Linked DNA regions of Homo sapiens: regions 1 and 2 are each linked to region 3. The links come from fine-mapping of genetic effects on gene expression. A gene starts in region 3. Each other region holds a variant in brackets. All regions are shown on one strand. Distances are between the middles of the regions.

Evidence for each region. PIP is the estimated chance that this variant, and not a neighbour inherited with it, causes the effect.
Region 1: its variant is the best candidate, but not a certain one, in a credible set for the expression of ZZZ3 in lung (TOPMed, PIP 0.50).
Region 2: its variant is the best candidate, but not a certain one, in a credible set for the expression of ZZZ3 in whole blood (TOPMed, PIP 0.83).

The regions. Positions count from the first base shown.
Region 1 is chr1:77,768,680-77,773,031 of GRCh38, forward strand. No RefSeq gene overlaps it. Among named protein-coding and RNA genes, the nearest start is that of MIGA1, 8.8 kb to the right of the region's middle. RefSeq lists enhancers at 1,340-1,569, 2,050-2,239. The variant G/A (reference allele first, on the strand shown) is at 2,527.
Region 2 is chr1:77,555,614-77,559,965 of GRCh38, forward strand. AK5 (adenylate kinase 5) reads left to right here. Exons shown (of 14, transcript NM_174858.3): 14 at 2,989-4,352. The coding sequence ends at 3,057. Among named protein-coding and RNA genes, the nearest start is that of ZZZ3, 120 kb to the right of the region's middle. The variant C/T (reference allele first, on the strand shown) is at 1,875.
Region 3 is chr1:77,680,693-77,684,692 of GRCh38, forward strand. ZZZ3 (zinc finger ZZ-type containing 3) reads right to left here and starts at 1,966. Exons shown (of 15, transcript NM_015534.6): 1 at 1,893-1,966. RefSeq lists enhancers at 2,022-2,101, 2,919-3,692, 3,122-3,221 and silencers at 2,482-2,901, 2,912-2,971.

The sequences.
Region 1 (4,352 bases), 88 kb after region 3:
CAATAGAACACAGATGTCTCTCTCTCTCTCTCTCTTTGAAAAAGGATCAAACTGGGAGGATAACTTGAGGTCAGGAGTTCGAGACCAGCCTGGCCAACATGGAGAAACCCTGTCTGTACAAAAAATACAAAAATTAGCCGGGCATGGTGGCATGTACCTGTAGTCCCAGCTACTCAAGAGGCTCAGGCGGGAGGATTGCTTGAGCCCAGGAGGCAGAGGTTGCAGAGAGCTGAGATCACATCACTGCACTACAGCCTAGGTGACAGAAGGAAACTCCGTCTCAAAAATAAGTAAATAAATAAAAATAAACAATAAAAATAAAAAATAAATAAATAAATTTAGAACATTTTCACCATTCCCGAAAGAAACCCTGTATCCTTCTGCAGTCACTTAAATTTCCCCTCAACTCTCCCAGCTCTAGGCAATCACTATGCTGCTTCCTCTTTGTATAGATTTGCCTATTCTGGACATTGCATATAATTAGAACCATATACAATATACAGTCTTTGTAACAGGCTTTTTTTTTTTTTTTTTTTTTTTTTGAGACAGAGTCTCCCTCTGTCGTCCAGGCTGGAGTGCAGTGGTGCAGTCTTGGCCACTGCAACCTCCACCTCCTGAGTTCAAGCCATTCTCCTGCCTCAGCCTCCCAAGTAGCTGGGACTACAGGTGCACACCACCATGCCCGACTAATTGTTATATTTTTAGTAGAGATGGGGTTTCACCATGTTGACCAGGCTGGTCTTGAACTTCTAACCTCAAATGATCTGCCCACCTCCACCTCCCAAAGTGCTGGGATTACAGGCGTGAGCCACCGTGCCCCACCTGACAGGCTTCTTTACTTAACATAATGTTTTAAAGATTCGTCCATGTTATAACATTTATCAGTTCATTATTCCTTTTTATGACCAAATAATATCACATGAATATATCACATTTTATTTATTCATTCATCAGTTGATGGACATTTGAGTTGTTTCTATGTTTTGGCCATTAAGAATACTGCTGAGGCCGGGCGTGGTGGCTCACATCTGTAATCCCAGCACTTTGGGAGGCCGAGGCGGGTGGATCATGAGGTCAGGAGATAGAGACCATCCTGGCTAACACGGTGAAAATCTGTCTCTACTAAAAATACAAAAACAAAATTAGCCAGGCATGGTGGTAGGCGCCTGTAGTCCCAGCTACTCGGGAGGCTGACGCGGGAGAATGGTGTGAACCCGGGAGGCAGAGCTTGCAGTGAGCCGAGATTGCACCACTGCTCTCCAGCCTGGGCAACAGAGTGAGATTCCATCTCAAAAAAAAAAAAAAGAAAAGAAAAATGCTGCTAGGCAAGGCACGATGTCTCACGCCTGTAATCCCAGCACTTTGGGAGGCCCAGGCTGGAGGATCACTTGAGGCGAGGAGTTTGAGACCAGCCTGGCCAACATGGTGAAACCCACTCTCTACTAAAAATTCAAAAATTAGCTGGCATGATGGCGGGTGCCTGTAATCCCAGCTACTCGTGAGGCTGAGATGGGAGAATCACTTGGGCCTGGGAAACAGAGGTTGCAGTGAGCCGAGATCGTGCCACTGCACTCCAGCCTGGGTGACAGAGTGAGACTATGTCTCAAAAAAAAAAAAAAGAATAATGCTGCTATGCATATTCATGTACAAGTTTTGGTATGAACGTATGTTTCATTTCTCTTGGGTATTACCTAGGAGTAGAATTGCTGGACCATATGCTAACTCTGTATTTAACGTTTTGAGGAACTGAATCTGTAGTATTTGGATATGTACATACCACTATACTCTGAATAGATGTTCTAAATTAGCATCTAAAACCATACTTTGAGTTCTAGATGCCTTGGTTAGCTTAGTTCTGACTCATAGAAGGGTCCTGTAAAATACTTTCAGAGGTTAGTGAGACTAAAGCTATAATGGCCAATATGTGACCTATAGCATTGTATATATTTGAAAGGAGGCCCTGAGGTATTTCTGGGGACTGCCAAGTTTTTGCAGTTAGTAGAAAAAGTAATTGGAGCTACAAATTACCTAAAAGTGTTCATCTACTTAGGTGATATAATTGCTTTTACAACCTCAATGTGCTAGACTTCTTTCTTCAGGCTTAATGTCGTCACTTGATAAATGTTGTTTCCACTAATCAATCATTCATGAAGTACATTGGCCACATATTGTTTCAGATGGAATGAGCAGTGACCCTAACTATTCTTAGTTTTTTTTTTTTCGAGACGGAGTCTCGCTCTGTTGCCCAGGCTGGAATGCAGTGGCGCGATCTCAGCTCACTGCAAGCCCCGCCACCCAGGTTCACGCCATTCTCCTGCCTCAGCCTCCCGAGTAGCTGGGACTACAGGCCTCCGTCAACACGCCTGACTAATTTTTTGTATTTTTAGTACAGACGGGGTTTCACGGTGTTAGCCAGGATGGTCTGGCTCTCCTGACCTTGTGATCCGCCCGTCCTCGGCCTCCCAAAGTGCTGGGATTATAGCTGTGATCCACCGCGCCCGGCCGACCCTAACTATTCTAAATAAA[G/A]TATCAGATATACCCAACCAGTGCAATTAAATCTGACTTTGATGCTGGGCACGGTGGCTCACGACTGTAATCCCAGCACTTTGGGAGGCCGAGGTGGGCAGATCACTTGAGGTCAGGAGTTTGAGATCAGCCTGACCAACATAGTGAAACCCATCTCTACTAAAAATACAAAAATTAGGGCCAGATGCGGTGGCTCATGCCTGTAATCCCAGCACTTTGGGAGGCCAAGGGGGGGCAGATCACAAGATCAGGAGATCAAGACCATCCTGGCTAACATGGTGAAACCCCGTCTCTACTAAAAATACAAAAAATTAGCTTGGCATGGTGGCGGACGCCTGTAGTCCCAGCTACTCGGGAGGCCGAGGCAGGAGAATGTCCTGAACCCGGGAGGAGGAGCTTGCAGTGAGCCGAGACCACGCCACTGCACTCCAGCCTGGGCGACAGAGCGAGACTCCATCTCAAAAAAAAGAAAAAGAAAGAAAGAAAAATTAGCTGGATGTGGTGGCATGAGTCTGTAGTCCCAGCTACTTGGGAGGCTGAGGAAGGAGAATCACTCAAACCCAGGGGGTGGAGGTTACAGTGAGCCAAGATTGTGCCACTGCACTCCAGCCTGGGTGACAGAGCGAGCGAGATTCTATCTAAATAAATAAATAAAAACAAGTCTGACTTTGGTACCTTCTGCATGTGGCTCACTCCTAGATGCTGGCTCTTTTCTTGTCCCTTTTGTATGTTCCTCAATGACTGTCTCCTTTGCTGGGGACCTCTTACTGTTTCATTCCCCAATCCTGGACAAAAAAACCTGTGGCTGAACATTTAGATGGTCAATTTAAACCTGGTTTGAAGATACAACCTTCTAATATAATTCAAGCCTGGCTACATTCTGTGACACTCACATGGTCCACAGGAAAATTTTTCTTGCAAAGTTGCAAGTACAGGCCCCTTCTGTTGTAGGCCTCTCTCTCTCTCTGTTCTGCCATCAAAGGCTTCTCTAGATAGCCTATTGCTTTTAGACTTTTCCAGGTAACATAAATCCAGGGCACAGAGTCAACCTGTCTGAATTTCTTAAAGTTCCTTTACTTGGCTTGAGGTGGAGATGGCGTGGGATAAGCACTCTCTTCTTCCCACTCCTGGGGAAGGGGAACAAAAATGCACAGCACTCCAGAAAACTGTCTCCCAGGCTTTTTTTTTTTTTTTTTGAGACAGGGTCTGGCTCTGTCACCCAGGCTGGAGTACAGTAGCACGATCTTGGATCACTGCAACCTCCATCTCCTGGGCTCATGCCATCACCCTCCCATGTCATCCTCCCACCGCAACCTCCCGAGTAGCTGACACTACAGGTGTGCCCAGCCACACCCAGCTAGTTTTTGCATTTTTACAGAGACTGGTTTTCATCATGTTGCCCAAGCTGGTCTTGAACTCCTGGGCTCAAAGTGATCCACCTGCCTCAGCCTCCCAAAGTGCTGGGACTACAGGCATGAGCCACCAAGCCTGGCCCTTCCAGGCATGTTTATTCTACAACCTTCTTTCATCAATCCTGACATATCATTCCTGGGAGGTGTGTGAGAACTGAGGATTGCTAAACTGGCTTCACAGTCTTCCAGCATGTCCTATGGGGATGGTCTGGCATCCTCTTTTAGAATGCTCAGGGTACTTCACATTTATTTTTCTCAGCTTTGGAGCCTCTGTTAAAAGACGCACTGAAGGGTCTCATTTAATATGCCATATATCTTAGAAATATGTGCCAGGATTGTTCTATGTTCTTTTTTTTTTTTTTTAAGGTGTGCACTTTTATTCAACTGGTCTCAAGTCAGTATACAGGTAAGCCC
Region 2 (4,352 bases), 120 kb before region 3:
TAGGATTACTTTGGTTATTTAAAAAGCATTCCTGTGCCATTACTAGTAATATTTATCATTTTAAATGATGACAATTATTACTTTCCTCAGAAAGCTTCTCTGCCCTCCCCACATTATGGAAGGTGCCCTTATAGCTCCTGTGCTTATCTCCTAACAGTGTAAATTCCTGTTGAATGTTCATCTCTACCACTGAGCGTGAGCTCTTGGAAAACAGGACCATTGTTTCTCGTTCAACTTGGTTAACTGCAAAACATTGATGATAACCAGGAAATGCTTGTTGGTTGAAAGGAAAAGAAGAAAGAAGTAAAGCAATAAGCAAGGTGCTGTGGGGGCCATGAACATGGCAAAGGCAAAGCCCCTACCATCCAGATGTAGAACCTGTAGCTGGACAGACAAATTGCAGATTGCTATCTTTGAGTCTCCTGTAAGGATGAAGTATATTTATGAGAGGGGAAAAAGAACTTTAAAAAAACTTATTTTTTCCTTATTGTGGGCTATATCATACATACAGGAATGCATAAAAGTAGTATGTAGAGTTTGAGGAATAAAATGAACACTCATGTAACCACCATGCAGGAAAAGAAATAGAAGAGAGTTGCAGAAGCTCCACCCTCCCCATATGTCTCCCCTGTCACAGCTTCCTTCCTCTCCCCAAGAAGTAACTCATGTCCTGGATTTCGTGATAATCATTTCCTTGCTTCTCTTTATGACTTTATTGCCTATGTATGGATCCCTAACCAATATAGCTTTGTTTTTGAACCTTATATAAACTGAACCATACTGTATTCATATTCTTGAGACTGGCTTGTGTCTCTCAAGTTTGTGAAATTAATCCATGTTGTTGAAGATAGCTGTGGTTCTTTTTCTTTTAATTACTATAGTATTCCATTATATGACTATGTCACAATTTATCCATCTATTGCTAATGGACATACAGGATTTTTCCAGTTGGGGAACGACAAACAGTGCTTCCGTTAATATTGTTGTATCCATTTTCTCCACTATCTGAACATGCAGCATTCTTTTTGTTGATATTGTTGAGAATTCACTCTACCTCTGGAAGCAGTGAAAGCCCTAGGGGAAGAAAAATTCAAACTAGTTTGCACAAAGAAGATTTAAATAGGTAGACAAGAGTCTCAAAGTGTGCTTGTAAATGTGTGTTTGAAAACTTTGTGTTTCTCAAAGTGTGCTCCAAGATGGCCCACAACAAAATCATGTGGAGAATTTGTTAAATATACAGATTAAAGACCCAGCCCAAACCCACCAACCAAGACCCTCTGCAGTTATGGCCTGGAAAGCTGTGTTTTAGCAAGCTTACCACCGCCCGCCCCCCACATGACTCATGTAGATCACCAACCCTCTACCTTTTTTTTTTCCTTTTTTCGTTTGTTAGCATTTAGTTAAGCTCCCTCCTTGTGGCTTGAAGCCACCAGAACACAGCCTCCCTACCTCCCCCCACATATACACCCTTAATCTTCTCCCAGCTCTCCTGCCGAAGAACTTGGCCTTCGTGACAGCAGGCTACTTTGGGAGTTTCCCTTCCTCAGAATTCTGCAGTAGCCCATAGCACTCCATCAATGATGGGAGCAGCTCCAGCCTGTTTTATTTATTATTATTTTTTTTTGTCAGCGTGTGATTACTCATGTCTCCTGACTGACCAAGGTCCACATTTGTCAAGGTCAAGAGTTGGGCAGAAGCTCTGGTTTCTCTTTAAGAGGTAATGCCTCATAACCAACTTTACCAAAGTAACCTGGGTGACACTCATGGAAGTTGATGCATACCACCAGCATTTCCCTGGCCTCCCAGGTGCTTCCCGTGCTTGGCCAGGCCTTTACTTTCTGTAGATGATACAGGTGTAATGGAACAAATCTCAG[C/T]GGTGGGTGCGTTAGGAGAGGAGAAGGGGCAGTACTTTCGTGCCCAGAAAATCAGCTTCCCTTCATATGTCCTCCTTGGGCTAGCATGCCAACAGTCTCCAAGCGGACTCTACCTTAGCACACCTACACACTGCGGTCCTAGTCTTTTGCTTTCTTCTCCACATCTCTCTCCCTCATCCCTCAATCTCTCCCCTATTCCCAAATGCTGCAGAACACTCAGAAGTCTCATTTTAAGTAACTCCGAAGTCTTTCCATGACCCCTAGCAATGTTTTACCTAAATAGGCACTTATTGTTTTAAATAGACTTTCCTTTTTAGAGAAGTCTTAGCTTCACTGCAGAATTGGGCATAGAGTTCCCATATACTAGTTACACTGCTCTAAAAATCCTGTGCTCTACCTACTCATCCCACCCCCCACCGCCCTCTGTTCATCGATCATTGATCTTTTTAAACCTGCCTCCAGTTTTGACTTTTCCAGAATGTCATATAATTGGAACCATACAATATGTACCCTCTTCAGAGGAGCTTGTATCACTGAGTAATATATATTTAAGTTTAGTGCTGAATAATATTCCCCTGTCCATCTGGATATATCAGTTTATCCATCCATTAAAATACTGAAGATCATCCTGGGTGCTTCCAAGTTTTGTCAATTATGCATGAAGTTGCTGTCAACATCCATATGCAGGTTTTTGGGTAGATGTTCAGGTTTCAGCTCATTTGGGTAAACACCAAGAAGTGCAATTGCTAAAAAGTATGGTAAGAGTATGTTCAGTTTAAGAAACTGCAGTGTCTTCTGAAGTGGGTGTACCATTTTGTGTTCCCACAAGCAATGAGTGAGAGTTCCTATTGCTCCATGTCCTCACCAGCATTTGGCGGTGTCAGTGCTTTGGATTTTGGCTATTCTAATAGATGTGTAGTGGTACTTCATTGTTTTTTTAATTGAGACACCTAGTTTTAAAACTACTCTTCACTTTTTTCTCTGTGTTTTGGGGGGGGTCTTGTGTTTTAAAATTTTGCAGAGCAAATTATGAGCAAGTGATAGTGTTCTTTCATTATTAAACATGATTTACAGATATTTCAGACTAACTCTCTTTTTTTCCTTTTAAATATAGATAAATGCAGAGGGAACACCAGAGGACGTTTTTCTTCAACTCTGCACAGCTATTGACTCTATTTTCTGAAGGCAAAAATGCATGTTTGTTAGAATGGAAACAGAAAAACATTAAAAAGTTCATTCCTTAACACAATGTTTCAAGTTAAACCTTTTGTGTCACCGCCCCCACCAACCACCACCTCCTAAATCCTGACAGCACTGTTTGCTTCCCAGCTAGACCTGTGTGAGAGGTGTCTGGAAATCATGCATGGTGTATTTGGGACTATATCAACCTATTCTCCACACTTCAGACAACTGTCTGCACTCACGGCACACACACTTTGTATCATGCAGGCCACACTCAGAGCTAGTCAGTACATGAACAGTGGTGCGGTGCCAGTCTGTGTCCGTTGTGATCACAGGCCTTGCTAGACCCTGATCATCTGGTTCTCCTCTCATTAAGCATCCCTAACCCCCAGTCACACCTTCCTCTTACATACTGTTCCCCAATGGAGGCCCCTGGCATAGGGGACAGCCCTGGGCATCTTCCTTTGGTGTCTGGCTGTTTTGTCAACTCTCATCCACTGGTGGCTCAGAGCCATAAGGTGGGTTGATTACACAATGCCTTGTACATGATATAGAGGCATCAAGCAAGTAAAATTTGACAGAAATTTTAAAATATGAAGATGTATAGCTTTCCCAAGATGATGGTAAAACCCAGGTTAGTCATCAGTAACCTTCTCTATTATTATTATTTTTTAGAAACTTGGAATACTGTCGTCATGGCTAAGAGAACAAATCTGATAAATTGTGTAACCTAGTCTCTTCTCTACATGGTGATGCATTTCAGCAATTATAAATTAATATAAATGACCAAAAGTAACTTAAAAGCATGAGATATTTGCTATTTCATTCATTGGGCACATATCAAATTATAATTTTGATTTTAAATGGTCACCCATGTATTTATTTGTTGCCAAGCAAGTAAAAAAATACCCTAACAAACCTGATGTGGGTGGGAGGGGCATGTCAGTAAGTGGTGTGTTCAATGTGTTTGTTTCATATGGGCCCTTTCCAGGAGTTTGCAAACCTTGTCATACCCATATGCAAAACTGTGTTTCCTTGCATTAAACCAGTGAAGTTTGGGTTCTCTTTTGTGCTATCAATCAGTTGTAAAATCAGAGCTGCTTATATATTCTACTGGAATAACTGCATCTTCCACTCAGTCACTACAAAAAAGCATAGTTTCAGTTTGCATGAATTTTTTTTTTTTTCTTCAATGGCTGTGCAGATAAGGATCCATTTCTGGGATAGAATTGTATTTTTTAAGTCATTTTTTTTTCTTGAAATGGATATGTACAAATAAAATAAATGGAAGACAGG
Region 3 (4,000 bases):
GAGATCACTAAGTTGCATGGTCAAACTATCATTTTAATCACAGTGATAAACTTTTAAAACGTCTGAAAAACTCCTATATAGTTAGGTTACAGTTTAGAATATATAATATATAAAGTTAAATACATAACACACATTAAAGATAAAAATATAAAACTCAAGTGATAAAACATTAATTTATTTAAATCTTGTTTTACATGTACTTTCTTTCTGTGCAAAGCTACCAAGCACAATAAATCAACTTTACTGCAAAAATAAGTTACTTGTGATATTTTCACAAGATTATACTACCAAAAAAATCAGTACAAACAAAAAAAATCTGCGTAAGTATGCATACGTAAGTCTTGACAAACAGGCATATATCACTAAATAAAAATTTAATTTAGTTAAAAAATGTTTACTGATTGCCAATATTGTGTTGGTACCCCATTAAAACAACACTTTCTCCCCTTCATTTAAGAAACAAAAACTAAACCAAAATATGGAAATATCTGGAATGATACACAGCAACCACAAAGGCTGGTTACAGAGATTTAAGACTGAGGAATGGAACTTTGTGGTACCGTGAAACAAGCACTGTGTTACTCTATACTATATACCTCTCTGTATTATGTATAGGAAAAAAAAACACTTTTGTAGTTTTAAAAAACAAACTATGAATAAATTAACTAGTCACCTGATTCGTTTTGTAATTAACTCCCCACTCCTTATTTAGTACTGCAACTACTAAATAAAATCCAAATACTACTTAAGAATACGAAAAAACAAAGGTATACTGTAAATTCACTTCTGAGACATTAGGGAATTGGAGAGAAATATTAAATTGATTTCAAACTCATTTAAGAAAAATAAAGCTCAAACTCTGATGCCAAAATTTATGAGTTTGCTCTTTACTAAAAAGTTGACCTGAGGCCGGGCGCGGTGGCTCACGCCTGTACAGTGCTGAAATCCCAGCACTTTGAGAGGCCAAGGCAGGTGGATCACTTGAGGTCAGGAGTTTGAGACCAGCCTGGCCAACATGGTGAAACCCCGTCTCTACTAAAAACACAAAAATTAGCCGGGCGTGGTGAAGCGCGACTGTAATCCCAGCTACTCGATACTCGAGAGGCTGAGGCAGGAGAATCGCTTGAACCCGGGAGGCGGAGGTTGCAATGAGCCGAGATCGCCCCACTACACTCCAGCCTAGGCGACAAGAGCGAGACTCCGTCTCAAAAAAAAAAAAAAAAAAATCACATGAAACAGTCTGTTACCTTAAATATATAACCTAAAACAACCATCCCTAAACTTCAAAGATGGCAACCTCAGTAACACAGTAGTAATTAAAACCCTACCGATAACTGAGTTAATAGGCACGTACAAAATGATGAAAAGCAGGATTTTATTCTGACCACAGGTGTTGTCAGAGACATAATGGGCCCTCCAAATACTGCCAAAAGTTACTGAAAATACGAAGTCAGGGTGATGAGTAAATGACACCCAGAGAAAATAGATGGGAGGAGTTCTGTTTCAGGAGACTGGAGTCAGGTACTGCAGCAGAAAACGCGACACAATAGTTAACCGGTCTGGAATACTTTAGAAAATGGCAAGAAGGGAAAAACTGACAAGAACATCTTAAAGTAAGAGGAACGGTATCCAATGGAATCATCAGGTCTGCGCGAGCACGGCTCCCGGACTTCCAGTGAGTGGGACAGGGTGGAACTATCACTGCGTGGGGAGAAGGACCTGGCTGAGGGGTGCATATGCTTTTGCAGGTGGTGGAGCGCCCGCAGGGGGATGGGGAGGGCAGTGTTGCCTCAATGGGGTTACTGTATTCCCTTCAAGACTATGGGAAGCTGATGCAGCACGTATCCCGGCACCAAGAGGCACTCGCCCCGGGCCCCTCCCTAACGACTTGCCTTGTAGAAAGAGTTGCAGGTCCCAGGCCCCCGGAACCCAAGGCTCCGCCATCCAGGACAACTGCTCTGCCAACGAGGTCCCGCGAGAATCGAGAGATCTCGCGATACAAACCCACTCGCATCTCGCGAGCTTCCACTAGACCCAACATGGCGGTACAGAAAAAAATCAGTATTTCGGAACTTAAAAAGCACTTCACTAACGGAGTAGTGAACATTTAAAACACTGAGACAGTAGGAAGTCTTTCCGCTTTATACGTCTCCTCCTTTCCCCTTGTACAGAAAAGCAGAAATCTTAAAAACCTCCGATTACCACGATTATACTACATAAACAGAGCGCAGTGCGCTGCCCCAGGCAGCCTCCCTGTCACGTGGAAACATTTTCGGCGTGCCCGTCACGTGGGCCGCTACTGAGCGAGCGCGCTCCCGACGCCCTCCCAAAAGCCCTCCCCGCCCCCCCTTTCGCCCGCGCACACGTGCGCGCGCACCCCCGCCCCACGTGGGGGCTTCGCCGTCGCAGCCGTCGCAGCCGTCGCAGTCGTCGCCTCCAGCCCACCCCCTCCCGGTACTTGGCTCCAAATCCGGGTCCCAAGCCGATCGTTTCCCACCCCCATTCCCTCCCCCTTCATTCTCCCTCCCCCGTGTCTGGCCCTCACCACGTGTCCCGAGCTCTTGCTCACCTTTCACGCGGGGTCGGACGCAACGGGCCACTTGGGGAGGCGCCGCCGCCGTGGCCGCTCTCCGCCCCCGCCACGGCACTTGCTCGGGTGGCCACCGCTGCAGGAAGCTCGATAGCGGCGCCGCGGCGCTTCCAGGTGGGTCCCCGCCTCCCGCTCCTGCCACTTCCCGCAGCACCAGCGGCTCCTTCCGGTCCCCTCCTTTCTCCTCGTTGGGACTGGCGGGCGGCGGCGGCGGCGGCGACCGCTGCTGCTGCTGTTGCTGCTGCTGCAGGCGCGCTCACTACACCGCCTGCTGGTAACCGCGGCCCGTGCAGCGCCCGCGGGTCGGGCGCCGCCGAGGCCCTCCCCGGCCAGTCCCTGCCCCTGGGCGAAGTTTGGTCTTCCGAGGGCGGGTTGCAGTCCATCCCTTGCAACCGTCCAACCTGGCCCTAGCAGAGGAAAGGCGTCCTCGTAGCTCCGCCATTGGAAATCGGCTTCATCCTGCCCTTTGTGGCCTCCTGAGAGATTTGTAAACCCCACCTCCCTTAGCACTGTGGTCTCAAGCCAGGAGAACATCCATACATGTATTTATGATCGTGCTTCTGCCTCGCCTCGTTCACCTCTGGCTTGTACCACAGCACGCAGGCTCGAACCACTTCGGGCCTTTGTGCTTGCCGATTTCTCTGGCAGAACATTTCCTCCAGATTTTTTTTAACTCCTCGATGTTCGATGCATATTTCAGGTCCCTTCTCAGAGGGCTGCCCAGACCACTGTATCCAAAAAAAGTACACCTGCACCATTGCTTTAACTCTTCACCTGCTTTTATTTCTTCATAACAGTTACAACTTCCAGACCTTATTTGTCAGTATCCTCACCACCAGAAATGTAAAATTTTTAAAAGCAGGGACTTAGTAAACTGTTTTGCTCATTGCTGTATCCCCAGAATTGTGTCTGGCACAAAGCAGTGCTCAGTAATATCAAAACAGATCTACCAACTATATTGAGCATGTAGGAAAATAAAGCCCAACACACATTAATGAAGATAAATAACTTCATCATTTATGAGCTGTGGAAAAACAGCTAAACCTCCTTCCGTGGCTATAAAGATTATGTTCCAAAAATATAAAATCCAGTGGTAGAAGCCGTTAACTGGGGCTCTTCTTTGACAATTGTCCAGTGCTGTTTCATTACTTTTGTTTTCCTTTGCAACACTATTTTTTTTTTCGGGCAAGTGGATACGTGTTGTGCCTTCTTTTATGTTGCTAATAAAAGTTATTAAATGTTTTAAATGGTGTTTTGTATTTTAGCTTTGAGTTCAACTCAAAGTAACATCTACTTCAAGAAAAAGGGTTACATGTTTTTAACACATCAAGTATTTATTGAACATACTAGTGTTTCTGGGTGGCAGTATGTCAAAAAAAAACGGGGGTGGGGGAGGCCGGGCGCGGTGTC